3 linked regions of the Homo sapiens genome follow. The main gene of each other region encodes a partner of the protein of the gene in region 3 in a complex. Each region holds a gene or a part of one and is shown on either strand. Other genes may lie near its edges. The genes, in order: ELAVL4, IGF2BP1 and G3BP1.

The links.
Region 1: G3BP1 (region 3) and ELAVL4 share a complex: the UniProt entries of both Homo sapiens proteins name them as parts of the TAU mRNP complex.
Region 2: G3BP1 (region 3) and IGF2BP1 share a complex: the UniProt entries of both Homo sapiens proteins name them as parts of the TAU mRNP complex.

The regions. Positions count from the first base shown.
Region 1 is NC_000001.11:50,102,426-50,113,336, reverse strand, and holds the start of ELAVL4 (ELAV-like protein 4), read right to left. Parts: upstream 4,418-10,911; 5' UTR 4,148-4,417; coding exon 4,139-4,147; intron 3,505-4,138; exon of another isoform or gene 3,397-3,504; coding exon of another isoform or gene 3,373-3,396; intron 1-3,372. UniProt on the Homo sapiens protein: RNA-binding protein that is involved in the post-transcriptional regulation of mRNAs. Plays a role in the regulation of mRNA stability, alternative splicing and translation.
Region 2 is NC_000017.11:48,993,514-49,000,384, reverse strand, and holds the start of IGF2BP1 (insulin-like growth factor 2 mRNA-binding protein 1), read right to left. Parts: upstream 3,001-6,871; 5' UTR 2,640-3,000; coding exon 2,465-2,639; intron 1,277-2,464; coding exon 1,216-1,276; intron 1,117-1,215; exon of another isoform or gene 1-1,116. UniProt on the Homo sapiens protein: RNA-binding factor that recruits target transcripts to cytoplasmic protein-RNA complexes (mRNPs). This transcript 'caging' into mRNPs allows mRNA transport and transient storage.
Region 3 is NC_000005.10:151,787,033-151,797,677, reverse strand, and holds part of G3BP1 (ras GTPase-activating protein-binding protein 1), read right to left. Parts: intron 7,356-10,645; coding exon 7,274-7,355; intron 6,790-7,273; coding exon 6,616-6,789; intron 3,520-6,615; coding exon 3,429-3,519; intron 2,200-3,428; coding exon 2,103-2,199; intron 452-2,102; coding exon 250-451; intron 1-249. UniProt on the Homo sapiens protein: Protein involved in various processes, such as stress granule formation and innate immunity. Plays an essential role in stress granule formation.

The sequences.
Region 1 (10,911 bases), on a different chromosome or scaffold from region 3:
AATGAAGCAGCATATCTCCTCATGGAAGAAATAGTATTTGGCCTACATATAGGAAAAGAACCCACCTATAATAAGGAAATAAGTGTAAAGGGAAGAAATCAAACCAAAAAAAAAAAGACTTACTCTGAGGAAATCCCATTGTTGTTCACAGTAACTCTAACTTGAGAAAAACATCTCAATTCATCCACAAGTCCTTTTAGAGATATTGAACACACACATACAAAGCACCATTCAAACAATAATTTCTAGATGTGAAATTTCAAATAGCTTATACCTAATAGAAATCCTAAGTTTAAAATATCTGAAGTCCAAAGTGTCCCAAATCCAATTTCAAGACTAAGTTTAGAACTAAAAGGCAAATGCGCAGTTCATTTTCTTTCTCTCTCTCTCTTTCTAAATATTCTATTGTTATTATCTCACAACAATCTGGCCTTCCTCTCATAACAACACCCTAATTTTCAAAGGACCAAGGAAGGAGTATTGGGAGAGAAAAAGTTTTAAGGTTTTGTGCAAACCATCAAACAGAAGCAAGGCCATCTACATCTGGCCAGGAGAATGACTTGAATGAATGGCAGGTAAAAATGAATGGGACTGAGATCACAAATGAATGGTTAAGTTGTTTGTTAGCTTTTTAAAAAATGAGATATTAAATTGTCTTGTAAATCAACAATTCTCAAAGTAATTTTTCAGCTACTTCCTCATCTATGTTAATTTTACCCTTTCAAAAATTTAAATATTAAATGATTTAGCTGTTATGTTACTATGAGATATATGGACATTCTGATCATTAAAACTGCTACTTAGTCAGATGTTTTTTGCAGAAATATTTCCAATTGGATTTTCACTTCTTAATAAATGCACATTCAGCCTTGTGCTTCCATAAGAGCACAACTCCACATGAAGGTAGTAGGCATTAATATTTTTAAGACAAAGGATCGAGAAAGGTCAGCATCAGAACCACGTGTCTTTTTTACAACCCAAGCCAAGATGACACTTCTTACAGAAATTATTTTCCCCTAACTAAAAATTGCCAGAAAATTCTCAGAAAATAAAAAAAGAAACTATATTGGAGACTTAAAAAAATTCTATTTTTTTAAAGGTGACACAGGCTTATGCACTCAACATATGGCCGCAAGTTTCAAGTGTATGACAAAAAATACAAGTTTATTTATTTTTACCTCAAGAGTGAAAATAAAATTTTTAAATCCCCTAATAAGAAGAGAAAACAAAAAGACGCATCTGCAAGGAAAAAAGAATTGGGGGGATTTGCAATGAAGAGAGCAAAAATTAAGTGTACTTTCAATAAAGCCAATTATATTTCCTAATCTTTTAGTGTATTTCAGCATTTTTAAATCTCTCATTTTTGGGCTTACAATTAGCTCCCTGATCATGCATCTATTTTGTCCTTTAGTAAAAAACCCTAACAGATCACCATTTCAATTGTTTTTACGCTATCTCCTGTTCACCCAAATACTACACCTTTCAATCCTTATGGTACCCACCATCATGAGAAAAAGAGACTATTAGTAAAGCACATTTAGAGAAAAAAGAGAGATGCTTGTCACCCAGTGCACACATGGGTCCCAGACGTCCAAAGACACTAATATAAAAATCAGCTTTTCACTCAGTTTGTGCCAAGACCAGAATCAGGACCAAATGCCAAATGGAAGGCAGTGGTTATGAGAGTGCAAGCCTGATGGATCCTGTGACTGTGGGCATGGGGAAAGAAGGAAAGCAAAAAGCTCTTCATTTATTATTTTGTAAAGTAATTTCTACTGAGGAAAAAAATGAGAGGTACAATGAATTCCCCTGAAACTATAGTATCAACATCCGATTTAGTAAAAATACCAAAATCACCTAACCCCAAATCATTGCTTAGGGTAGATCTATTCTACCTATATTTTTCCTATGAATATTTGCTGGAAATTTCTAAGAAATCATTTGCAGAACCTATCAGCTGTGGGAGTTCACTATTATGCTTCCGTCAACTTCATTCAATATAATTTACATTTTTTCAAATGGTCTCACAGGATTCCTTGCGATTTTTCGCATGTACAATTTCACACCAGGGAAAAGGGGGAAAAAGGAAAAAAAAAAAAGCAAGATTCCCTACCCTCCCTTCCCCCTCACCTCCTCTCTGGGTTTTTTAAACAACAACAACAACAACAAAAACCACACGCGCACACACACACGCACACACACACAAAAACAGGGGAGACAGAACAGATGCTTAAAAATAGATTTCTAAAAATCACTGTAAACCAGAGTTAGAAATGTAATTAACACCTATTAATAACGAATAATTAAAGTTGGGCTGGCCACAAAGAACAGCAAAGATAATCGAGGTCCTGTCCCCCTCCCCTTTTTTTTTACACTGTTTGCAGTGTGTTCTCATGATAGCCACCTGCTCCCTACTCGGCTTCTCCTCTGTTCGTTTCCCCGGCAACCTTTCATTGGGTTTTCCTCCCAGCTATCGCTTTCAGTTGGGCTGCTCGGTCTAATCTTATTTGTTTTACACCCATCAAAACAAGCAGCCAGACAAAGGCAATCCTCTAAGAATGGGAAAAAGACCACAGCTTTGTTATAACATCTATGCAGAGCAAAAAGTCCTCCCCAGGCTTTTCTAGGGAAAAATAAGTAAGATGGTTATGAATTTACAGCCTGCCCCCATACCCAGCTCTGAAACCTTGTGAAACCTATTGCTGGTGAAAATTCAAAGTCAAAGTGGGCACTCGTGGCATCTAATCATGCCATTTTGTGCCATATCTTCAGGGTCAACATCAGGCGACAGAAGCGGCACTCAAGGAGTTTCCCTGCTTCTTTTTTCAGAAAAAGATGATGCTAAAAATAGATTTACTACTTCGGCAGAAAGGTTTTCCACTTCCCCTTCCACATCCGAAAGTCCTGTTTCACAATTGCATCGGCTGGTACTGAATCTCACCTCCTCCACCCCTCATTCCCATCCTTCCCCATCACTCCTAGCATGAGACTGAAAAAGAAATGTGCCTTTAACTTTAGCAGTCGTGTAATTCCGTTGAAGGCTCACAGAGGCGGTGGACACGCCAGCCAACAGTGACGGTGACATTGATTGTCAAAAAAGACACCAACCTTCCTTGGCTAAAATGTGTGTTTGCTGGAAGAGGCAGTGTGTGTGCCTTGTGTGCATGCAGTGCCATTACACTTGGAGATGGATTCTGGTTTTCAGAAAAGAGAAATACTAATAAACACACACATACATACACACACAAACGATCAGCACAGTGATTTACGATGCACAGTCCAGCATCCTTACACATACACACATACAAGCACACACACACACACACACACACAGGGCTGGGACCTCCAGGCTGCCTTCCTCTTTTCACTTACCATCTTCAAGCCATTCCACTCCATCTGTGATCAGAAGAAGATGGACCCTCACACAGTGTGTCAAAAGCGGAAAGGAACGTTATGTAAAAGCTGACATTCCTTCTTACAGAGCTGCTGCCCAGAGAAGGAAGCAACAACTCAACACGCCAGGCACTGCTACACATACAAGCCGCCTCCTCTTTTTTATGAGGTCATGACAGGAAACTCTTTGAAATACAAGATGCAGCATTTACTGAAGCCCAAATAAATCACTCTCTTTGCCGTTTTGACTGCGCAGTCCCCCGAAACACAACTGCCCATCTCAGTGTTCAGTATCCAGGAGCTGCCTCTCGAGGTTTAAATTTCCAGCACGGAAATTGAGAGATTCCTAACCCCGCTGCATCCACCCCCAGCCCCACAAAACCCAGGCACGTAGACAAACCCCCTCTCCCTTACAAAAAAGAAAACCCTTCTTTTGCCATTATGTCTCAAGTAATATAACCTCTTTCAATAAACCAGCAATTATTTCAGCCCTCCCCCTCCACCCCTTGCCTTTATGTTGAAGGGAAAACTGACAACGACTTGCTAAAAATGACAATCTTATATCCCCATTGCTTTTCAATAAAAGGACCTACCCGCACTCTCTACACAAAAGAGATAGTAAATGTAGGAACCAAACAGCAGCACAGAACTAAACTCTTGTGCAAGCATAAGACTGGTCAAGGTGTAGATGCTTTTCTTCCCTCCAGCAACACAAACAACAGATTATAAATCTAGTCATACCTACCATAACCATTCTTATTGGCAAATATTGGGTCTCGCAGAGCTTCGACTCTTCTGTTAAAATTTGCAAAGATTTCAGAATATATATTTAAAATGACTACTATTGTTATATATAATTAAAGATCCACAAAACACAGTGTGGATGATTGTAAAGCAAATCAATTATTTTTGGGGGGGTGGGCGGGGGAGAGAAAGAAAAAAAAGAAAAGGAGCAGTGAGCTGAAACCCCCGATTCTAGGATGTAGATAAGAACAACTGAACAGAGCCTTGCTGAAATTGGCTCGAAGCTTCCCCTTTTTACATCCATTTATGGGACCATCTGTCAGCCGAAGCCTGGATCTGATTGGCTGGGGAAACGAAGGGAGGCGTTGCAACATCAGGTGCTATTTAAATTAGCTACTGCCAGATTGACGATGTTAATGATTTGGTGACCTCTACAACAACAGAGACCAGATTTCTGAACTGCTTCTTGTGTCTGGTAATTAAGGCCCGGCTGAAGCAACAACAGCCATACTTGTATTTTTACCTTTTCCCTCCTCCCAGCTCAAAAGTACTGTAACAACTGCAGGTCACTGGAGGCTTGCAAACCTAAACTAACAGTGGGAGGGTCCTTCTTTTCCCATCCTGAGGGCCGAACCGTGCCACCTCTCTGATGGAGGGCTTTTCCACCGTAGAATATTTTCAACCACCTTATCTTTCTAGACAGTTGCTTTCTAGCGAAATGCATATTTAATGATCTGCCTGTAGGCTTAAAGGTACAACAAAAGCACTTTAATGTGCTAATTCATCTACAATTTAACTTTATTATTTCCAGATATTGCTGATTTTTAGTAAGTAATGCTCCTTCTCCAGCTAACATGGCCAACATTTCAAAAGCAAGCAAGTTGGGGATTAAGCTTGCTCCGTGAACTAGGTTCATACAAGTTTGTCTCAGAAAACTATTTCCTAATAAACAAAAAGAAAAAAAATGGTGGGGGTAAGGGAGGGGCAGCTGTCAGCCTCTACCTTTCTGCCTTCTGTCTGAGCTTTTCAAAACTGAGGATGATGAATGATTTACTTAAATGAATTTATTTTTCAAGTTGGATAGGAACATGATCTGAATTTTTAAAAATCCACTAAAACACATTCTCCTACCCCTTTAGAGAAAGGTAAAACATGCTTTTGACAACAGCCTCATTTCAAAACCTGTGCAGAGTGTTCATTTTGCTTAACTAAATAAGTGATTTTGCTTCTCTCCTTCAAAGGGATGTCTTTTTTTCTTTGGCCTCTTAAGAGATTTGCAAAGAGACATTTAGCAAGTGTATGGTGAGGTATACAGTTTGTCTGCCTATTTACACATTTAACAACCTCTACACTACCAAGCCTTCAGTAGTGTATTTTTTGTTCTGGTTTGGGTTTTTTAAGTGGCTTACCTGAGAAGTTCATGCTTCACACCTATGCAAAAGACTAATGTGTCACTATTTATTTAACTCATAATTTAATCAATTTGTTCTTCAATAAATACACAGTGGTAACACATATTACCAAATACAAAATTCAATGTAATCTTTAATCTTTGACTAGAGTTGACAGTGAGACAGAACTAGGCAGAGTAGACATACAGACCAAAAAATAAGCTATATTTCTGGGTTTCAAAGTCCAAGAATAAATGGGTTTGTGAAAAATTATTAGGAAAGAAAATAACCTTACATTTTTCAAGATTAAAACTATTCTGTCCAAGATGCTGTTTCATGAACACACACATATAAACATACATATATATTCACACTTCAGAAAATACAGATACATCATAAAACAATATGTGTTGGGTACACTGCATAATCCATTAGACTTGAGTATGAATACGTTCAGCTATTAGAAATGAAAATACATGAAATAGAAAAGTACAAATGTTAAAACTATAATTCCTTAAGGTGGAACAATACTCAGTTAAGTAAACTTTTAAAGTAATTTCTTTAGCAAATGTATAAAATGTCCTGTGAGTCACAATAGTACTACAGTATCTGTTGAACTGTGTACTGAGGGTGAATTCACAGGTTAAAGTGTTCTAAATGGTTCAGCATATATACACAGAGTAGGTATGTGTGCCCCAAATCAACAACATAAACTCTGAGTGCAATTTCACCAATATTAAAATATTGTGAAAAGTAAACATTAAGACAATGCTGACAAACACAAATAAAAACAGCTCACTTGGAACAAAATATTTACTTAGATTTCTCTGGAGGTTATAAAAGATAAAAATTTTAAAAACCCTTTTCTCCCATCCATACTAACCTCAGTACACTTATTGAACCATAAATTAACATTAGGTATATTAAAAGGTATTCTGGCCACTTTTCCAAAATAGTAGCTGTATATACAGTATAAATAACTAGCTGGTTTTGCTAGGCTAAAAATTCATGCATTTTGTATATTGATCACTTTTCCACAAACCTCCACTTTAAAGTCTTTCAACAGAATCCTCAAACAAATGCACAAATGTCCTCAGAGGCCTTTTCTCTAAAGACAAAGGCAGAATCCTATTGTTGGGAAAAGTCAACCTTATTATCGCATTTCCAATAGTACAATTCATCTTTCAGAGTGAGGGGCTGACCGCTACATCAGTGATGTGACATTTGTAAAGCAACAGATTCTCAATATATTATCTCAAGAATCAGGCAGGCGAGTCTCCCAGTCATGCATGATTTTTTTTTTCTGCCACAATCCACCACCACAGAAAGAAACTTGTCTCACTCAAGCAGCTAAGGCAACCTAAAAATGATATCCCAGCACTGTGGGGCTGCCAGCGCCGCTGTATTCCTCTTACCATAAATGAGCAGTTTCTTGACTCATTAATGACAATTTCCCTTAAAAGAAGTAATCTCATATCAGTCAGCCCCTTGCCACCATGCACACATCCCAAAGGTTGCAGATATCTCAGCATCAGTCGCCGGCAGCCAGCTTTCCCACACAGAGTCCAGATGGACTGTACCAGAAGCCAATTCAGCGTTAATAACTACCTACTCCGCGCAGTGGAGAAGCCTTACGTGGCACAATGGGCTAGGAAACAGCAGCCGGCTGAAACTGCAAATAAAAAAAGACAACCAAATTCTCCAAAAGCACCAAAAGGAAGGAACAGAAATGGAAGCGTGAATTGTATTTCCTTGACTTCCATGAGGCGGAAAAAAAGGAATCCTTCATAAATATAGGGAAAAAAAAGAAGAGGGGGGAAAAACAGATGCTGCCCAGAAAAAAGTGACAAAATATTACCTCATTATTTAACAAAGCAGCATTAAGCGTCCTGCTGATTTCAAACATCTTGCCACAGATTTTGTTTTAAGAGAAACAGATAGAATCCTTTGCAAAGCACTCCGTCTGCAAAGGGTTCTTCAATTTTCTTGCGCACCACGGAACAGTCAATATATTATTTCCCTAGAGTTCGTACATTAAAACCTCTAGTCAGTGAGCTGAATTTTCCCCTTATCTCACACACAGTAGACTCCTGTTATATGTACTGCTCTCTTTGCAAGAGCAGCCTGCCCCAAACATGGCTGGTGTTTAAACTACTCTTTAAAGTAACAGTTCACTATATAACCACCAGGTGGGTAGAGTGCACAGATTCAAATGAACCATCTTAAAAGATTTCTTTTTTTTTTCCCCTTGGAATAGCTTTTGGGTGTAAAATGTGACATGAGAAACACTAGCATCTTAACAGGCAAGATTGTCTCTCACTATATCTTGTCAAAATAAATAAATAAAATTCCTTCTCTTGACTTAAAGCAAGGAAATGAAACAAAACAAAACAAAACACTGCCACAAATTCTAATAAGAACTGCGAAGAATGAAACACAAACAAGCTTTGTTTCATTCAGCAAAGGATGAACAAGGAAAATACAATCAACACAGAGCAATGGGGAAGGCCAAAAACCTCATGAAAATATTTCTCTTTAGCAAAAACAGAAAAATATTCACACACAGTGATGAAAACTCAAAAGTGTGCATGTGGATGAAGCACATACAAGATGGAGGCAAGAGTTTAAGGGTGCAACTTTTCTTCTGGGTAGAAATTAGGTTTATTTAATGTGGGTCTTTCCTGATAAGAAATAACTGAAAGCTTAAAAGTAAAGACACCGAAAAAAAATACAAAATATTAAGCCTCTCTTTTAAAAATACAATTATATGAATAGTGATAAACAACCACAAGAGCAAGCCAATCACATGTCTCTACCCATTGCTGTTCTTTTTCCCGAAGATCTGCCTCGAAGTGGAACATTTCTGTCGTATACTATTTTGGATGTATAGCTAACTTGGCATCTCCTTTGTATCACTCTATTCCAATTAATCTGCTCCTCTGCCAAGAATAAACAGAATGTCCCAAGTTGAAAGCTCCAAGTGATTGGGGGTATGTTAAAAGGATATAGAACCACCTGAACAAAAATAAATTACATCACTTATATTGTTATATGGCCTGATTTTAAGGAGGATCTTATTACTTATAAAGCATGCAACACCATTCTATGTTCCACATGTGTCTAAAACAGAAACCAACACACACAGATACCTGGGATTTTCTTTTCTTGGCTGGACAAAATTAAAGGTCTGGAACCTCCACATTTTCTTGCAAACACAGGTGTTGACAGTAATATTTTCCCAGCCCATCCAGGCCGTATTTAGCCATACACAATAGTGACTATGTCCTTCATCTTTAAGTCAAGACGGCATCACTTAATACCATTTAACCTCCTTGCATATATTAAGTTTCAAGTGACAATTTTTAACTGGGGAGTGAGAAGGAGGAGTTGCTCTCATCAAATTCTGGTTGTATGAAATAAGCTAATTTGTACACTCACCATATGTCTTAAACACTAATTAAAAAATGTCACTTTCTTCAAACATTAAAATGTAATCAGCCTAGTAAATAAAATATTCTCAAGTTTTCTTGCCTTGGTGCTAATTTAAAGAGTGTTTATCTCAAGGTAACCTCTCTATTTTGATTACCAAGGAAGACTTTTAATTTGAAAAGGGTAAAAGGGGATACTGGGGACTGGGGGGAGAGAGAAGAGAAAACCACTACTGTATGAAGCTGCACAAAGGAAAATAAGATGAAGCGGGTTTTTAAGGACCCATAGTCTTGTTACCCTAAGGCAAATCCAGCCAATCAATACCACCCATTGACGGTCTACCATCTGCCAGGCTATCCAGTGATGTGGCTAAACAGACCTGTTCCATATGACTGTAGCCGGCTCATTTTCAGTCGATTAGGGCAGTTCCAGAGCATTCACGTGCAACAGCACAAAACTCCAAGTCAGACTGAGCCTCTCTCTTCACACCAGTCCCTCCGAACACAGCTGCAGACCTTTTCCTCCTGTTCCGGCTGTCTGGATTACCTCTTCTTGCCCCTCAATTGAATTAGCAAAATGGGGTGGGAAGGTAGAGTGAACAGACACTCACATATCCACACACACACATATAGATAATTGCTGGCCCTTCTTCACTGTCATGCAGAAATCAGGAATTCCATGTGCTCTGCCCTAATATGATTATAGCACACCATTTAAATAGCGTCATCAGTGACTATGACCTGACATTTTCCTGTGGTTCAATTTATTTTCATCCTTTACCTCTTCCCTTGAAAAATAAACCTAGACTGCTGGCATTTCCTTCTTTAGGAAAAATACAATCAGTCTGCCCAGAAAATGGTATACTATATGTAAAAGCTTTTGAGAAAATTTAAAGCTTAATTTTCCTTTGTTGAATTGTGGTGTTGGTTTCTGTCTTTTTTTTTTCTTTATCATGTAGAAACATTAAATCAATTTTTATAGGAAAATGCAAACATACTACAGAGGCAAGAAAGATGCACCAGACTGATGTGAAGGAGTCTATCAGAAATTCACTGTCGAATGTTCTCTGTGAGATATATGACCTGATAGTCAATAATGCCTTTCTCCTTCCTAAGTAGTTTTGTCTACTACAGATTGTGGGAAAGCTAGAAGAATGCTACTGTGGGGGGAAATGTGACAAATGGATGTCTAACCTGTCTAAATCGCCAAGAGTTCACCTGTGCAGGTAAATGGACCTAAGAGTAGATTCATACTTCATCTTCCTGCTTTCTCTTCATATTCCTAAGCCTTATGCAAGAACAGTAGCTGAAAGTAAAAGTTTCCTTTCCAGAGTCAGTGTATGCTTACTTTTTCAAATGTGCCTTTGACCATACTCTTAAAGCACTAGGATGTCTTTCTGGGAAAGAAAATTTGAAGTACAGGAAAACTATCTTACTTACAAAATTCTGAAAAAAAAAGGTAAATACACATTTATCCAAGCATCTGATTTAGGTGGAATGGCTGTCTGGACTTTTCCCTGATATATTCTTCATCATAACCCCCAAAAAACTCAGCAGGGTCAATGTGAAAACACACAGAGATTTCTGAAGATCCCTGCATTAAGGGATTTGGGGCCTCTTCATATCAGTTCAGATGAGCTTTACTAAAAATAAAAAACCAAAACAAAGAAACAAACAAACAACCCTGGTATATGTATAAATTTTTATAAATCTAAGTGCACGAGCAGGTAAAGTATGGAGTAGCTATTCATACCATTAAAGGATATAGTGTTTGGTCAGTTTAATAAATTTTTGAAAATGACTTGATATGGAATTTAAAAAAATTCTGGACTCATTTATAATTCTGTAACTAATAATAAAGGAATAGATGTAAAAGGCAAAGAAGGTACATCCATGGAAAAAGAAGGGAGGAGGAGGAGAAAGAAGGAAGAAAAGGTCAAAGGGAGAGGAGGGGA
Region 2 (6,871 bases), on a different chromosome or scaffold from region 3:
AAGTTACTTAAATATCAAGCTAAGCAACTGAACAGATTTTTATCTCACATTAAACTTTCTAGGCCCTCTTAATGGTCCCCCAGAAAAAGCAGTCATCATCTCCCATCTACCCGGAAAAGGCCAGAGACTATCCTGAAATGTACCAAGTTTTCAGCTGAAATGGGGGGTGAGGAAGATCAAAGATTTACTGGGGGCTGCTTTCCAGCTTGGGACATGAGAGCAAACTCTACACTGTCAACATGTTTAAAGTCTGATTTGAGAAAGTAGAAAGACTCTGCCCTTATACTTCCCAGCCAGAGTTCAAGGAAAGGTTTCAGAGTTCAATGCAAGATTTGAAATCCACCATGAATTCTCGGTAAGTATGATGGAGGTACCCCATTTTGCTGAAGAGAGAGGATAGAGGGTATTGGAACACACACGAACACACACACACACACACACACACACACACACACACACACCATTCATCCACGGAGTTCTAGACCCTCCAAAGAGCCCCAGCTCACAGCCTCAACACAAAGCTCTCACCCCAGATGGTCCCCTGGTAACAATGGGCTGAAGGAGTGGGGGTAGGGGGGCTCGAAAAGGATAGTACAGCCAAGGCATATTCTTTGGAAAATCCAGCTGGGGAGAGGGATGATGTGAGATATGAGGGATTGGGGGTGGGGGGTCCATGGAAAATAAAAAGTCTTTGCCTGTTGTAGAAATATAAATAAAGTACAAGCATAAGGGGATTCTTTGGGGGCCGGGAAACTCATTCCACATCGCTTCGGGAGAAGGGCAATCCACTTAAGAATTATGGTGTGGAAAGAGTGGGAAAAACAGAAAATGAGGCCTGCTACGAAGTTGCAGAAATCGCCATGAGTCTGAACTCTTCAAAGATTTTAAGGTTCCCCCACAAAAAACGGCCCCACGAGTTGAACAAACAAACTCCACAAGGTTTCTCCCCTATTGATTTTCTTTCCCCTTTAATTCTGCAAGTAACATCTTTTAGCCTACCCCAGCCCCAACTTATTTATTTTTTTTTTACAAGCTGTAAACCACCCATTACAAGATCTTGGCCAATCTTCCCTCCCTGCCCCCAACATCCGGAGTTGGGGGTGGGAAAGACCAGTAATGGGTTTCTTCCACTGGAGACGCTATGGACCCCTGAACACAGCTTCACAGCACACCCCCGCGGCCCCCCCACCCCCCCCGAAAAGAGCTCTTTCCTACCTTTGTTTTTTGGGCACCGAATGTTCAATCTCTAAGCGTTTTCCTTGTAATTCTACTTTCCCTAAAGATTAAAAAAAAAAAATTACCATGAGAGCTTGAACAGGGGTTGGGGGTGGGAAGAGGAAGGGGAAAAGACACTAGGATAATTCAGGAGTTACTGGGATTCGAGATCTTCCTAGGAATCCAGGCAGTGGCTTCCGCATCCAGATGGGAAAAAGGTTGCTCTAGGAATGGTGGAGTCTGTAAATTCGTTATTATTCATTTTTTAATTTTTGCTTTATTAAATCACTGAGGCTTGTTGAGTGGATCGCTCTGGAATCCCGATTTGGGAAAGGTGCGAGGCCATTTGTGTGGGTGCGCTGCCTACACAGCTCCCAGATGTGGGAAGGAGCCAGGAAAGAAAGGGCTCCCCGTTCCTCAGAAAGTGGGGCGCGGGGCGGGAGGCAGTGTGCAGAATGAAACTTTATTTTTCTCTGTTGGCCAGGAAGACGGGCTTTGGGCCACGGAGCGGTCACCTGTCGGGGCTGGTTTGGGAAGGGGTGGACCTGGGGGAGCGGAGCGGGGCCTGGCGGGGAGGGTCCCTCACTGCCACCGCGCGCGCCTCTCGGCCCAGCCTCGGCGTCTCGGGAAGCAGCATGGCGACCCGGCGCCGCCGCCGCCGCGCCACCCCGCTCACGCCCCACTTTCAAATCAAAATGGCTCAAGCCCCAGGCCCTGGGCGGGAGGCAAGACCCCCTTCCTTGCAAGTCCTGCTGGAGGGCTGCATTCCCCACGCGAAGCGGACAGATCGCAGGCGGTCCGGGTACCCCTTCCACGCCTGGAAAGGCCTAAGACTGAGGAACGGGAGCCGGGGTTTTCCAGCTGGGGGGGCGTCCACCGGCGGATAGGGAGGGGCTGGGCGTGGAAATAACGCCCAGCCAGGGGTCATCCCCGTGTCCCTAAATTCAACCCCCCACTACTGCCAGTGGGGGCTCCCGCCCCGTCGGTGGGGAGGAAGGATGGGGGAAGCCAGAGCTCCTTATCTCAGGCTGGGAGAAAGGGATGAGGAAATCCCGAATGTTTCTGCGCGGGGGTGGGAGGCGCAGAGCGAGGGAGGGGGCATCGAAGGGGGTAGGTCGAGGGTGGGTACGGAGGCCAAACCCCGCAGGCCCGGGAAGAGAGGAGTTGGCGGGAGAGGAACCGGAAGGTGCGGGTCTCCGTTGTTCGGGGCTCTCGTTGTGGCTTTTCCGGGAGGTGGCTGTGTTCTTACCGGAGAAAGTTTCGATGGCCTTCATCGCCCAGTGCTCGTCCGGGCAGTCCACGAAGGCGTAGCCGGATTTGACCAAGAACTGGCCGCTGTAGGAGATCTTGTGCTCCGCAAACACTTTCTCCAAGTCCGCGGGGGTCACGCTCTCGTTGAGGTTGCCGATGTAAAGCTTGTTCATGGTGGCGGTCTCGGGGCAGGACGCGGTCCCGGGCAAGGCCGAACGAGCGGGCGCGGGCGGCGAGCCTCCTAGGCCAAGAGGCGGAGAGGCCGGCGGCAGGAGCCGCAAACTTTCTTTGCACCCCACCCCAGAAGTTGTCCCGAGCCCAGGGCGGGGAAGGCGGCCTGAGGGCGCGCAGAGGTCGCGGGAGAGTTCGGGGAGAGCCCAGGAGAAGTGCCCGCGGCGCGCAGGGAGACGGACGACACGGCGCAGCTTCTTCCCTTCGGTCCGAAACCCCTCCGAGAGGGCTGGTGTGTCACGTTTCTCCGCGGCCGCCCTGGCGCCGCCTCTAAATAAAATCGACTTGAAAAAAAATGGAGCGGAAAAAAAAAAAAAAAAAAAAAGGAGAAGCCACGTGGTGACAGCCCCCACCCACCCTGCAGGGAAAGACCCCCGACGCCACAGGGCCCCTCGGCCCTCCGGCCAAACCCGATAATCTCCCGCCTGAGGGTGGGGAACTCAACTCACCCCCGGGGTAAACTGGGGCGGTGCGGCAGCGTCCCTGAAGCTCTACAGGCCCCTTCCCCCTTTGCAAGAACCTGGCCCCTAGGGAAGCGCCCCGCCCCCACCCATCCCCCTACCCCAGCCCAAACTGGGGGAGGATGGTCCAGCCCAGATCTCACATGTCTTAAAGGGTAAAATGTACGGTTATTTTTCATTCGTTTTGGGGGGCGGGGTTGCTCACCCCTCCCCGGTTAACTGCTAGCGACTGACAGGCGGGGGACGGCCGAGACAGACAAAGAGAAGCCGAAGACTCTGGGGTCTTCAGGAGAGGGTCGCACGAGCTGGTGATTTAAAAAGAAAGGAACCTTTTCCCTAGATGTTTAAATGGGGGGGGTCTCCGCCTTCCCCACGCCAGCCCCACGAAACTCCCCCGCCTCCGGGGATGCAGGACCGGGGGACCCTGCGAGCGCGGGACTGGAAAGCTGGGAACGGGGTATCCCAGTGGAGAACGAGGAAGCCGCAGGAAATAATGTTTTGAGATCCCCACGGGAGAAAGGGTGGTTCGCACCCGGGGTCCGGCTGTTAAATGATAACGTTTCGGGGTCCTGAGGGGAACACGCGGAACTGGCCGGAGATGACTCCAGGAGACAGGAACGGTGGGAGACAAGGAAGAGGAGTGATAGCTAGGGCTAACCGGAGCGAACTGAAGGGGGAGGTCTTAGGGAGGGAGTGACCGGGTGGAGATTTGAATGGTCCCCTTTTCCCTCCCAGAGTCGGGGACAGACAGGTGGAGTTTCCAGAGCCTGCACCACCCGGGACACTGCTGGCAGCTCTCTAGGCCCTAGGTTCGGGTCTCGGAACTTTGTTTGGGGTGCAGGATTCCGATCCTGGCGGGAAGGCGGGAGAGGGACGGAGGGCGGGGGGCTAAGCGGGAAGCCCCGCCCACGTCCCCAGGTCAGACCCGCGGGGGGAGGGGGTAATTTCCGCTCCGCGCACGGGGAAGCGAGGGGCGGGAGCTTAGGGGAGGGGGCGGCGGCCACTCCCCTCCTCCTCCCGCCGTTCCTGGGGAGGGGGAAGCGGATCCGCCTGGGTCCCTTCCCTCGGCTTTGACCAACTCATTCCGGATCCTCCGGCTCCCGGAGCCCGAGGGAAGGACCCGACTGGGCAAGGGGCGACACGTGGGCGGTCGCACCCCGTCTGGGCGGTGGGGGAGGGGGCTGCTCGCCGCGCGTTTCGGAGTCCCGGATACGCGGCGGAGAGCGGGACGCGCGGTCCACGGGCAAGCCCCGGCTCCACGGCGGAGCGGCGAGCGAGGCCAACGAGTTTCTAGCGGCGGAGGCTGGGATGGCGCCAGGGGTGGCCGAGAGCGCGGCCCGGAGACCCTGGAACCCCCTCGCCCAGGGAACGGGGAAAAAGGAGGGGTCGACCCCCAGAAATTCTGGAATCCCCTTGAACAGGGCGAAAACTGGGGTGTTACTCCGGACTCTGTGGGAGGGAGGATAATTCTAGCGGGGGCACGCGTGCTGGGAGGGCAGGTGAGGAAGGGGGTCACTCCCCTTCCCCAGTCCCCGACCCCATTGTCTCAGTCGCCTGCGGCCCGGGCCGACTCCGCAACACGTGTTGACTACACCGATATGAATGCCTTGAATTTTTTTTATTGTTATTATTTTTCGTTTGCAGAGTCTGAGCTGACTCCGACTTTGGCTCACCGCTCTGCGGCCGGACGATTGTATGCCATTCAAAAAGTCGGGAGTTGAAAGACAGCACGCAGCACCTTTGTCCCCCTCCCCGTTTTCCCGGCGCGCTGAAAAGAAATGGGGCTGGGACTTAGGGGCGGGGGAGGGCTTCCAACTCGGTTTCTCTATATCCTCCACCACCTTAGAGCCCACCCTCCCCAATGAGCGTTTTGTTCTACCCAGCCACGTGTTTGTCGGATTTTTGTTTTTGTGATTTTTTTTTCCCATGGAACAACAAGAATTAAAGTACTAGGAGCTATTTGTTGTTGAGTAGAAAGAGAATATTTTCTGTCCAAGAAGGTGGGAGACATCTGTGTCTCACCCCCACACACACACCTCCGACCCTCCCCCCTTATCTGACTCTTAATACTTAGCTGTTGGTCACAAGCATTATTTTTAAACAAACCAATGAGTAGGAAACAGGCATGCCACATAGTAGGCACTCAATAAACATTTTTTTAAATGAAAAACAAGCTAATACAAACAGCACAGCAAAGAGAATTGATGAAAATTAGAGTCCAGGGGGGAAAAAATTATCTTGGCCAGAACGTGTGGCTCTGTTGCCCGGGAACTTTTCTTGGTGATGTGTGTAGACTTTTGAAAGGGCTAAAAGATGGTCTCAAAAAGGCTGTTGTATTTCTTGGCCTTTTCCTAAAGAGGAGCCCCAATCTCCTTAAATCTTTTCTGTTATATTGGGGAACAAGGAGGAGGGCAACTAGGCAGATCATCCCAGTTCCCAGAAACTTTAAGTGCTGTTTCTTTCATTTAATTTGAATCTTTAGGTGCTAATAAAAGCACTTCTCAGATTGTCTCCCTGGGGGACATATCCACTACTCTGCCTCTGTATGCCTAAAACAAAAGCAAGTTACACCCCATAAAAATCTCCATCCAGACCTCTAAACTCCTATAAAATGCAGTCCACTTTTTACTATCCTAGAGTCAATGGGAAACAACATTTTTAAAAATAATCAGTGAATTCAGTTCACTTTCAGGTTGATTTTTTTCCATGTAAAAATATACTAACTAAATGTTAGCTGAAATCAGTTTTAATGTATTTAAGATAACGTTAGAAGAGAATATATAAATTTCACTTGAACAATCTGCTATTTTTAAATCCTTTTAAATATTTAATTAAAAATTACCAATAATTGCTAAATTGAAACTGATTAGTTCTTTTTAAAAAATCAGCTGTTTTACTGAATTCTAATCCTCTCCACCCCCCAAAAAAAGGCTTATGTGTGTATAGTCAGAAGCTGCAAAGGCTGCAAGAATACAAGAGAGGAGACAACAGGGGTGAGATACAGATCTTTTTAGCCCCCAAATCAGTTTTGCCTTAGTGACCTGGCTATTTTAGGCTGGGGTTGGGGGAACTAAATCACATTGATTGGTGTTTCATCTCTCCCTTTTGAATGAGCCCAGCACTCACATTAAGGGTTATTTCTTATCTAGACTGACATTCCTAGGTTAGGGATAAAAATGGGCAGACTTGAGGTACCATAACTTTTCATCTTTCTTTTCTTTGTTTTTGTTAACATTAAAGATTACTATCAAATATTGTATTTATTTTCAATTTTTTTTCTACATTGCTTCTTTGGGACAGATAAATCTTTAGTGCAGAGTTACACTTGTGTAAGAGTTAAAAATATAGCTACAGGATTAAATGGTTTTTTCTTTAATAATTATCCTTTATAATACATATCGTATATAATATATATTGTATATTCTACATAGTAATATTAATACTGTTATACCTCTTCCTCTTCTTGTTCTCCTCCTCTTCCTCCTCTTCTTTATTTTTTCCTGGAGAACAGTTTGGTCTAGTTATGGAATTTAATTATCTGAATTCAGAAACACTGACATTTGACTCCATTTTAAAGATAGGATAATAATCCATTTTCCTCCAATGTGAATATACAAATACATGCAGAGAGGAAAAAAAAAGTTTGAGAGAATAAACCAACTTTTTTAAAGATGAAAATAAAAGAATATTTTTCTTGGAGAAATAAGCCAAGT
Region 3 (10,645 bases):
AAATTTCTGGTCTAACAGGCATTCAAGTTACCTCGGGGAAGGGAGTGGTTTCTTTTGATGAAATAAACTAATACACATCTTACCTCTCTCTTATCAAACATATGGCTCAATATCTAAGAAATTTCCCTGAAATGAACCACCAATATGAAAATGTATCTACAAGTCAACCAAACAGCAATACAAAAGAACAGAAACTTTTTTTAAAAAAAATAACTAGGAATAGAATAAAAATGAAGACACGTTTCATACCCTCAAGTCTTCCTGTACTGTCTGAGCTATGTCTGCAGGTGCTGGAGAAGAACTCTTCTGAGCATCCTCAGGGGCAGTTTCTTCTAATACTGGCTCAGGCTTTTCCTCTTGGATTTCAGATACAGGTTCTTGTTCTGGTTCTGGTTCAGGATCAGGCTCTGGTTCAGCAACAGGCTCCTCTAAATGTTCTTCCATGTCATTACTTTGACAGGAAAATTTGAGAAATATCATTCTGCCACCATTTATTTCACAAAAAATTCCTCCATCATTTATTAATCAGAAACCAGAACACAGAGTTAGCTCCTTCTATCCAAAACAAAAATCTAAGAATTGTATATCTATCTGAGTTTTTAAAAAGTAATTTTTAAAATGCCACTCAATAACTTAACTGGAATCCATTTGTTTGGCAAATTCTGATAAGCAAATGAATCAGGACATCAAAATGAACCAAACCACTTTATGGCTGGAATCCCACAACTATTACAATTCATTTAGCATACAACATCAGAAAAACTCTCAAAATAGGCTGGGGCGGGGGGGGCGGGAAAGAAAGTTGCCATTCAATGGGTATAGTCTGTTTATAAGGTATATAAAGTTATCTTCAATAAAAGTTGTAAGGTGAAAAGTCCTAGATATCTGTCATAGAACCACATCTATACAGTTAACACTACTGTACTTTACACTTAAAAATGGTTAAGATGAAAAAAAGGTTAAGATGGCAAATTTTATGATATGTGGCTTTTAACACAAACACACAAAAACTCTTTCAAGCACATAAGGAATTTGGGGGAGAAAATAGTTATGATTCAGAATACAATTCTTAAAATTCCACATAAATCAACCAGAAATGCTGTTAAAACTGCAGAGGGGGCTGGGCACACACCTGTAATCCCAGCACTTTGCGAGGCCAAGGTGGGCAGATCACCTGAGATTAGGAGTTCCAGACCAGCCTGGCCAATATGGCGAAACCCCATCTCTACAAAAACACAAAACTTAGCCGGGCATGGTGGCGTGCGCCTGTAGTCCCAGCTACTCAGGAGGCTGAGGCAGGGGGATTGCTTGAATCCAGGAAGCGGAGGTTGCAGTCAGCCAAGATCGCGCCACTGCACTCCAGCCTGGGTAACAGAGCAAGACTCTGTCTCAATAGAACAAAAACAAACAAAACTGCAGATGTTTTGCCTCCTGAAAGTCTAATTCGGTAGGTTTGCAGTGGGACCATGAATCTTCATTTTCAACCAGCAACCCAAGTGAGTAACCTGATTAGTTCATCACACCTTAAGAAACACTTGAAAACACCCTTCAGGCACTGAATATTAACATTCAGTATCACATGGTAACAAGTAAATATGGATTTCTATTGCTATCAAACACATTTCTGTTCTAATCACAAGGGGGAAAAAACCCAAAGGTATAATGATGCACTTACTAACGTAATGAAATTCTTTATTGCTACTTAACTCACATATTGGTATTTATATCAATTTATGCCCGATCTCTAATTAAATAGGTCTCTGTCCACTTCATATTCCCTCAAAGCATTTAATACCTCAATACATTCAACTCTTGATAAACAATATGCAAGTTTTCACTTAACACCAAGAAAAAACTAAACCAAAAAGAAACTGATACTATTTAAACTAAGCAATAGTAGATTGCCTTCATAGTACAATTTACTATTAACAAACAAGTTACATATTTTTGTTTAGTCAAAATTACCAGAAACAAAACCATTCTTCTGAGAAATTATTATTTTGAGGTAATTCTCAGAATATGTAAATGCCCTCCAACAAAGGGAAAGACTAGACAATGCAAGTTCTTATGCAGCCCCGGACATGTGAACAAAATCTTCTTACCTGACAACTGCCTGATCATAGAAAGTTCCAGAATCATCAGGTACCACCTCAGGTGTTTGCTGTCTTTCTTCAGGTTCCTCTACTTCTTCTTCAGACTCTAAGTGAGAAAAAGATATTTAAAGTAATTTGTACTTACTGAATTCACATATACATTAACTTTCGCAATGTTCACAAAACAACAGTGAAGAAAAACATATATAAATAAACAAAGTAGGACAATTTGGTAAAATCATGGCACTGACTTTAAGGACAGAACTAAGGCTTTGAAGAACAGACTTTTTTTTGTTTTTTGTTTTTTGAGACGGAGTCTCGCTCTCTCGCCCAGGCTAGAGAGTGCAGTGGCGCGATCTCGGCTCATTGAAAGCCCCACCTCCTGGGTTCACGCCATTCTCCTGCCTCAGTCTCCCGAATAGCTAGGACTAAGGCGCCTGCCACCACGCCTGGCTAATTTTTTGTATTTTTAGTAGAGATGGGGTTTCACCATGTTAGCCAGGATGGCCTCGATCTCCTGACCTCGTGATCTGCCCGCCTGGGCCTCCCAAAGTGCTGGAATTACAGGCGTGAGCCACCGCGCCCAGCCTTAAGGATAGACTTTAAGGCTACTGTAGTGTCTTGGTTTTTAAGAGCATGGAGCCTAATGCAGGCTCTGTCACCTTACTGGCTACGTGACATTAGCCAAATTATATTAGGCAGTTATCTAATGCAGGCTCTACCACTTTACTAGGCAAATGATTGCTTATCTGTAAAACTGTATTACAAAATAAATATACTCTCAGCCATATAAACAACACTCAATTCTACTATTTTGGAGAAAATTTTCCATAAGTCTCTGTGTCTACACATCTTCCATGCCTACCCTTTCTTCTAGACTGTCTTTCAAGAACATTTATATAGCAAACAGCTTTGAAAGAGTATCTCCCTCCAGCACAAAGAGTAGTCATGTTTACTGCCTGTTGTAATAGATCTGGGTTCCCTAAACTCAGTGTCCCATGCCTTTAACACAACCCACTGCAGTAGAAGTATCACCTAGCCTTCTCCATGACATCCTATTGGTAAATGTGGCAAAAATACTACTACTGTCGCTGTGAGTTAGCCTGTCTCCTTCTGACCTAAGAGTCTTATGTCTTCTACTAACATCCATGATATAAGCTAACCTGTTAGCAGCTTCAAGTAGGGTAAAACCTCAGACTCTTCATATACCATAATTAGTTATTAATGAAGAACAGAGTGTAATGAAAACAGTAAAGAAACCCATAGTCTCTTAAGGGCAATCGGATGCCATTAAAAAAAATTTAGACAAGTAATTTAAAGTATTTCACTACTTACCCTCCTGAGGCTCAGTGACAAACCCACCAAAGACCTCATCTTGGTATCTGAAGATATCATTGTGAACATAGAATTTATTTGCAACAGACCCCTGCAATGCCAACAGAAAGTTTTAATTTATTCAACAGACTTTTAGAAAGTCAAATCACTCTACACCATTGGTGACTGGGACAAGTCTGCCTCCATGAGACATCTGGCAATATCTGGAGACATTTCAGTTTTTGTTGTTGTGGGGTTCTGAGACAGGGTCTTGCTGTCAGCCAGGTGGGAATGCAGTGAGCCACCACAGCTCACTGCAGCCTTGACATTCCAGGCTCAAGCAATCCTCCTGCCTCAGCCTCCTAAGTAGCTAGAACTACAGGGGCGCGCCACCATGCAAGGCTAATTTCTCTTTTTTCTTTTTTTTTTTTTTTTTTTTGAGTAGAGACGGGATCTTGTTATATTGCCCGGATTGGTCTTTAATTCCTGGGCTCAAGTGGTCCTCCCGCCTCAGCATCCCAAAGTTCTGAATTATGGGTATGAGCCAGCATGCCCTGCTGACATTTCAGTATTCACTACATGGAATGCTACTGACAACTTATAAGGTTAGGGATGCTGCTAAATTCCTACAATGCACAGGACAGGCTCCCACAACAAAGAATTAGTTAATCCAAAATGTCAACAGTGCCAAGACTGAAAATGCCCACTCTACAATAGCCGGTAAAAAGACTACACTCACATACATTTTGTTTGCTCAGAACACTTTACCTCACCACAAGATAAATATCCAAAAACTGACAAAGCCCTAAGCATGTAAATGCCACAGCCCACACCTCAAAACATTATAAGGCAATCATATCCCGGATGGGCACAGTGGCTCATGCCTGCAATCCCAGCACTTTGGGAGGCCGAGGCAGGCAGATCACCTAAGGTCAGGAGTTCAAGACCAGCCTGGCCAATATGGTGAAACCCCATCTCTACTAAAAATACAAAAATGAGACAGGCATAATGGCCCACACCTGTAGTCCCAGCTGCTAGGGAGGCTGAGGCGGGAGGATTGCTTGAACCCGGGAGGTGGAGGGTGCAGTAAGCCCAGACTGCACCTCTGCACTCCAGCCTGGGCGACAGAGTAAGACCTTGTCTCAAAAAAAAAGGCAATCATATTCCTAACTTCAGCAGATATTTAAAATTCCCCAAGTCTGTCTCCAAAAATATTGATATAAACACTCAAGGGTAGTGCAGCCTGAAAAAGATTGCTCGCAGTAGGTATAAGACACACCTGAGTGCAGATCCAATTATATATTATGAGTTATTCAGTTTCTAAGGCTGTTACTCCTCTGTAAAAAGAAAGGTACCAGCTAGGCACAGTGGCTCACTCCTGAAATCCCAACACTTTGGAGAGCTGAGGTAGGAGAACTGCTTAAGCCCAGGAGTTTGAGACTAGCCTGGGCAACAGTGAGTTTTTTGTAGAGTGAGTCTCCACAAAAGCAGAAACAAAAATCAGCCAGGAATGGTGGCCTGCACTTGTGGTCCCAGCTACTTAGGAGGCTCAGGTGGGATTATCATTTCAGCCCAGGCAGTCAAGGCTGCAGTAAGTCATGATCCTACCACTGCACTCCAGCCTGGGTAACACAGGGAGACTCTTCTCTCAAAAAACAAAAAAGAAAGATATCAACATATACCTCAATACTCTCTGTATTAAATGAGACAGTTTATATAATAGTGTATTATACTAAGAAGTTAGATACTTCCTTTAAAAGAAAAAAACTGTAATTAAACCTGTAATTCACAATCATACTCCATGTGATTCTTTGCATATTTAGAAGTCTACCACATCTTTACATTTTAATCTAAGCCTTCCTCTAAAAATTATGACTATAATTGGCTTCATGTAATTTTGCACAGACAAAAAGTTATCTCATATTCAAAGGTTAAAAGATTTTAGGCGTTTCAGGTTTGCTATCCTAAAAAGAAAACTTAAGATTAATGCTAGAGAAAACAATGATTTAATCAACAATTTCTTACTATGCCATTTCTATATACATGCTTAAGCAGACAGGATTCCTAACCTTGTTCAGTCTAGACCAATCCGGAAGAAAACACAAATGCAATCATTCAACATAAACTTGTCGTCCTTTCATAAGTATAACTAAAAAGAACCAGGCCTCCTTGAAGGAACAGCTGATTCAAGAATAGGGACTGGGCCAGGAACAGTGCAAGATGAACCTGGAAAATATTTTGCCATAAGTGTTCAAGAAAGATAAAAAGATAGAGAATCTCCCATCCTTCATTTACAAATCAAAAAGAGAAAAAATAAGGCTGGGCATGGTGGCTCACACCTGTAATCCCACTTTCGGAGGCTGAGGCAGGCAGATCACTTGAGGTCAGGAGTTAGAGACCAGCCTGACGAATATGGTGAAACCCCATCACTACTAAAAATACTAAAATCAGCCGAGTACGGTAGCACACGCCTATAGTCCCAGCTACTCGGGAGGCTGAGTCAGGAGGACAGCCTGAAACCAGGAGGCGGAGGTTGCAGTGGGCAGAGATGGAGCCACTGCACTCCAGCCTGGACGATACAGTGAGACTCCGTCTCAAAAAAAAAGAGAGAGAGAGAAAAGATATTTAACTTTACAGTGGCAAAACCTAACTAATCAAAATTCATATCACAACTAAATGACATAATATGCCTAATGTGAAGCACTGAATGACACCCATAAAGCATCCTACAAAAAAAGTGTGCTCTTCAAAAATGTCAATGCAATAAAAAAAAACAAAAGATTAAGGAACAAGTGCAGATTAGAAGAGACTAGAGACATGATAGCTAAATGCAATGTGTAATTATAGATTCCATGTTGGACAAGGAAAAAAAATTACTGTTAAGACATTATTGAGATAATTTCCAAATTTTAAAAATGGATTATAGATTATATTGCATCAACATTTCCTGAATTTGATAACTGTACTACAGAATGGAAGAGAATTATTCTTAGGAAATGCCCACTAAACTATTTTAGAGAAAGAATTATACACATGTGGGCAAGTGGTGACAGCTGCTCTAGGTAAGGAGTATATAGGAGTTAGTGTACTATTATTCCAAGTTTTCTGTAAGTCTGAAATTTCAAGTGTTTTTAAAGATATGCACAACAGTTCATTGTTTCTTTTTTCATGTATTGGATCACTACAAAATAATCATTCCTACACATACCTCAGGAGCAAGGACAAACGTTTGCATGAATCTCCTCAAAGCCTGGTTGTTGTTAGAGAGAAGCCCCATCACCTGGACTACCACACCATCATTTAGCGTGGCATGAGCATCAACATGGCGAATCTTGGTGTGGCAGTTGGTGAAGTTTTGTGACATCACTTTCCTGTGGATTTCCTTAAAAAAATAATAATAATAATAATAATCAACTGAGAATGCCTTAAAATTTAAATAACCTCCAACTAAAAAAAACCTTCCAACACAACACAAAGAGAATGTGTATATTTAAATTACAGGATATGCAGACTGAATTTTGATGTTTCTTTGTATACTCTATTCCCAGTGACCGCGCTTGAGTTTTTTAAATAACTGTCCTGAATTAACACACTTTTCAAAGTTTAGAAAAGATGATCCCCATGCTAAAGCCAATTATCTTCCAACACACAAAAGCTTTAGAATATATCATACAAAATTAACAAATCTGACATCACATAAGTATTTCAACAAATATATTAATCAAATAGTAATAAAACACATCAACTTTTACTAAAAAGTTGAGAAACTGGATCTTTATCAGCAAATCTATTAAGTATGATCCACTTCAATTTTATGAGTTATTTTCTACCTGCTTAACAGCCTAAATAAGGCTTGAAATGCTTACTTTCTGTCCGTAGACTGCATCTGCTGGCTTTCCATTTGAATCCAATCCCCCATGGACATAAGAAGAGTTCTTTCCATAAAATCTGTAAAATGGGAAGATGATTTACTTGTCATCTTCAAGTATCTTAAGTTTATTTTTCACGTCTGATACTGGCAAACTTTTTTTTTTTTTTTTGCAACGGGGTCTCATTCTGTCACCCAGGCTGGAGTGCAGTGATGCAATCATAGCTCATTGCAGCTTCGATGTGCCGGGGCTATGATCTTTGATGTGCACATTTTTTTTTTTTTTTTTTTTGCTCTTGCTGACCAGGCTGGAGTGCAATGGCACCTCAGCTTCCCAAAGTAGCTGGAACTACAGTCACATGCCACCATGCCTGGCTGATTATTTTTATTTAAGTAGAGATAAGGTCAACTATGTTGCCCAGGCTGGTCTCGAACTCAAACTCAAGCAATTCTACCTGCCTTGGCCTCCCAAAGTGCTGGAATTGTAGGTGTGAGTCACCGCGCCTGGCCCTGGCAGAAACGTTTTCTTTTTCATCTTTGTATGCAATCATCTCTGTATCCCCTACATGCCACTTGATCAACATTTGCTGAATGGGAATGGATTTGGTTCCAGGTTTCAGTGTAGGATGATACTGTTGGGAAGGATCTTGTAGTTTCATGTCAAGATGGCCACCAATACATAAGTTCCTATTTTCACTCAGGAAGAAAATGTGCGGTAAGGCTGGAACAGCTATCTTCTTCATAGACTTCAAGTGTCCTTTTATTAATGTATCTGAGAATAAGCGTGAGCGGTTCCCCTTAAACACCTAGTTCATGCAAGTGGTTTTAGAAGTACTTTTTAACTATTTCTGCTGATGCAATTAAGAATGTCAAAGTCAATTCCTCATGGTTTTCACCCATCTATGTCCTCCTTTGATCCATTTTCATTAAAACAATATTCTACCAGGAAAGCAACACACCAAAATGCTCTAATCCAGGGATAACCACTATTAAGATTTGACATTTGTCTTCCAGATAAATACATTTTTTTTTTTAAGACAGAGTCTTGTGCTGTTGCTCAGGCTGGAGTGCCATGGCGCAATCTTAGCTCACTGCAACCTCCGCCTTTTTTTGTATTTTTAGTATAGAGAGAAGGCTTTGCCATATTGGCCAGGCTGGTCTTGAACTCCTGACCTCAAGTGATCCGCCCACCTCAGCCTCTCAAAGTGCTAGAATTACAGGCATAAGCCACCATGCCTGGCCTATGCTTTTTTCTTTTTGTTATGTTTTATGTCAGTTTTATTCTATGGGGTAGAAAGAAATTAACCAAATATAAAAATACAAAAAAAGGCTGGGCACGGTGGCTCACGCCTGTAATCCCAACACTTTGGGAGGCCAAGGTGGGCGGATCACCTGAAGTCGGAAGTTCGAGACCAGCCTGACCAACACAGGGAAACCGTCTCCACCAAAAACACAAAATTAGCCAGGCATGGTGGCGCATGCCTGTAATCCTAGCTACTCGGGAGACTAAGGCAGGAGAACCACTTGAACCTGGGAGACAGAGGTTGTGGTGAGCCGAGATAGCGCCACTGCACTCCAGCCTGGTCAACAAGAGCAAAACTCTGTCTCCAGAAAAAAAAAGAGCCAGGCATGGTGGTGGTGCGCACCCATAGTCCCAGCTACTCAGGAGGCTGAGGCAGGAGGATCACCGGAACCTGGGAGGCAGAGGCTGCAGTGAGCTCTCACCACTGCATTCCAGGCTCGGTGACAGAGCGAGACTCCACCTACTAAAAATAAATAAATAAATAATACACACACACACACACACACACACACACACACACACACACATATAAACTTAGCTGGGCATGGTAGTGCATGCCTGTAGTCCTAGCTATGTAGGAAGCTGAGGCAGGAGGATCACTTGAGCCCTGGAGGTCAAGGCTGTAGTAAGCTATGATCTCACCACTGCACTCCAGCCTGGGCAACAGAGTAAGACTGTCTCAAAAAAAAAGAAAGAAAGGGTAAAAACAGCTTTGAGACTTGTTTTATCACTTAATAGTCATGTGCATATGTACCTGCAAATTTTTAACCCCTCTGAGTGTATCTGCAAAATGAAGTTAACTCTCTTACAATGCCCTACCTTTCAGTAAAGATTTTTGTAATGATCAGGAGGAAATGAGAAAAAATGTTCTGGAAATTTTAAAGCCTTAAAAAAAAACCCAATTACACCTGTAATCCCAGTATTTTGGAAGGCTGAAGCAGGCGAATTGCTTGAGCCCAGGAGTTCGAGATCAGCCTGGGCAACATGGTAAAACTGTCTCTACAAAAAATTAGCTGGGCGTGGTGGATTGCACCTCAGTCCCAGCTACTCAGGAGGCTGAGGTGGGAGGATCGTCTGAGCCCAAGAGTTCAAGGCTGCAGTGAGCTGTGACCTTGCCACTGCACTCCAGCCCGGGAGACAGCTGAGACTTAACTCTCTCTCTCTCTCTCACACACACACACACATGCACACACACACACACACGAGATATATTCCATTGTCAGAGCAATGTCAAAACATTCATAAATTTTATTTTATGAATTGAAAATATTCATATTGAATACATTCATAAATTTTATTTTATACCTGATAATCATGTGGTATCCAATATGCAAGCTGGTCAAGGTGTAAGGGAAAAAATAGTTCTGGTCCAGCAAATACACATTTTGAAACTTCTATGAAATTATTCTAACAAGTCCACATAAATAGACAGTTTTGTATAAAGCGACATTGTAAGAGAAAATAATAGAAGCAATCTATAGATCCATCATTAGGAGATTAAAGTACACTACATCTCTATAAAAAGCTGTGTAGCCACTAAAATTAATGGGATACAAGTATTACCCTGAAAGATGACTCCAGATTATCAAGTAAGAAAGTTAAGACAGTATATTAAAACATGTTTCTATATATATAGAAAAATTGTTTCTGTGGTTTTACTACTTTCATAATTTATCTGTGTTCTAATTTTCAATAAGCATGCATCATTTCTACTAAAGACACTAATTTTTTAAAGCGCATCAACACAAAAGTATGGTATTACAGGAACAGTCATGGATTGTCTTCAATACATTCTTATTTTTTACATCCACCTCAGCTCCAGCAATCTTTAATACATTCTTAGTAAATAATGCATGACTATACCTTTACATTTCAATTGTTATTTTCCAATAATGTACAAGTTTAGATAACTTAGTTTAACTTTCAAAAATTATTTTTTGGGGCTAGGCGCAGTGGCTCACGCCTGTAATCCCAGGACTTTGGGAGGCCAAGGCGGATCAATCACCTGAGGTTAGGAGTTTGAGACCAGCCTGGCCAACATGGTGAAACCCCGTCTCTACTTAAAAA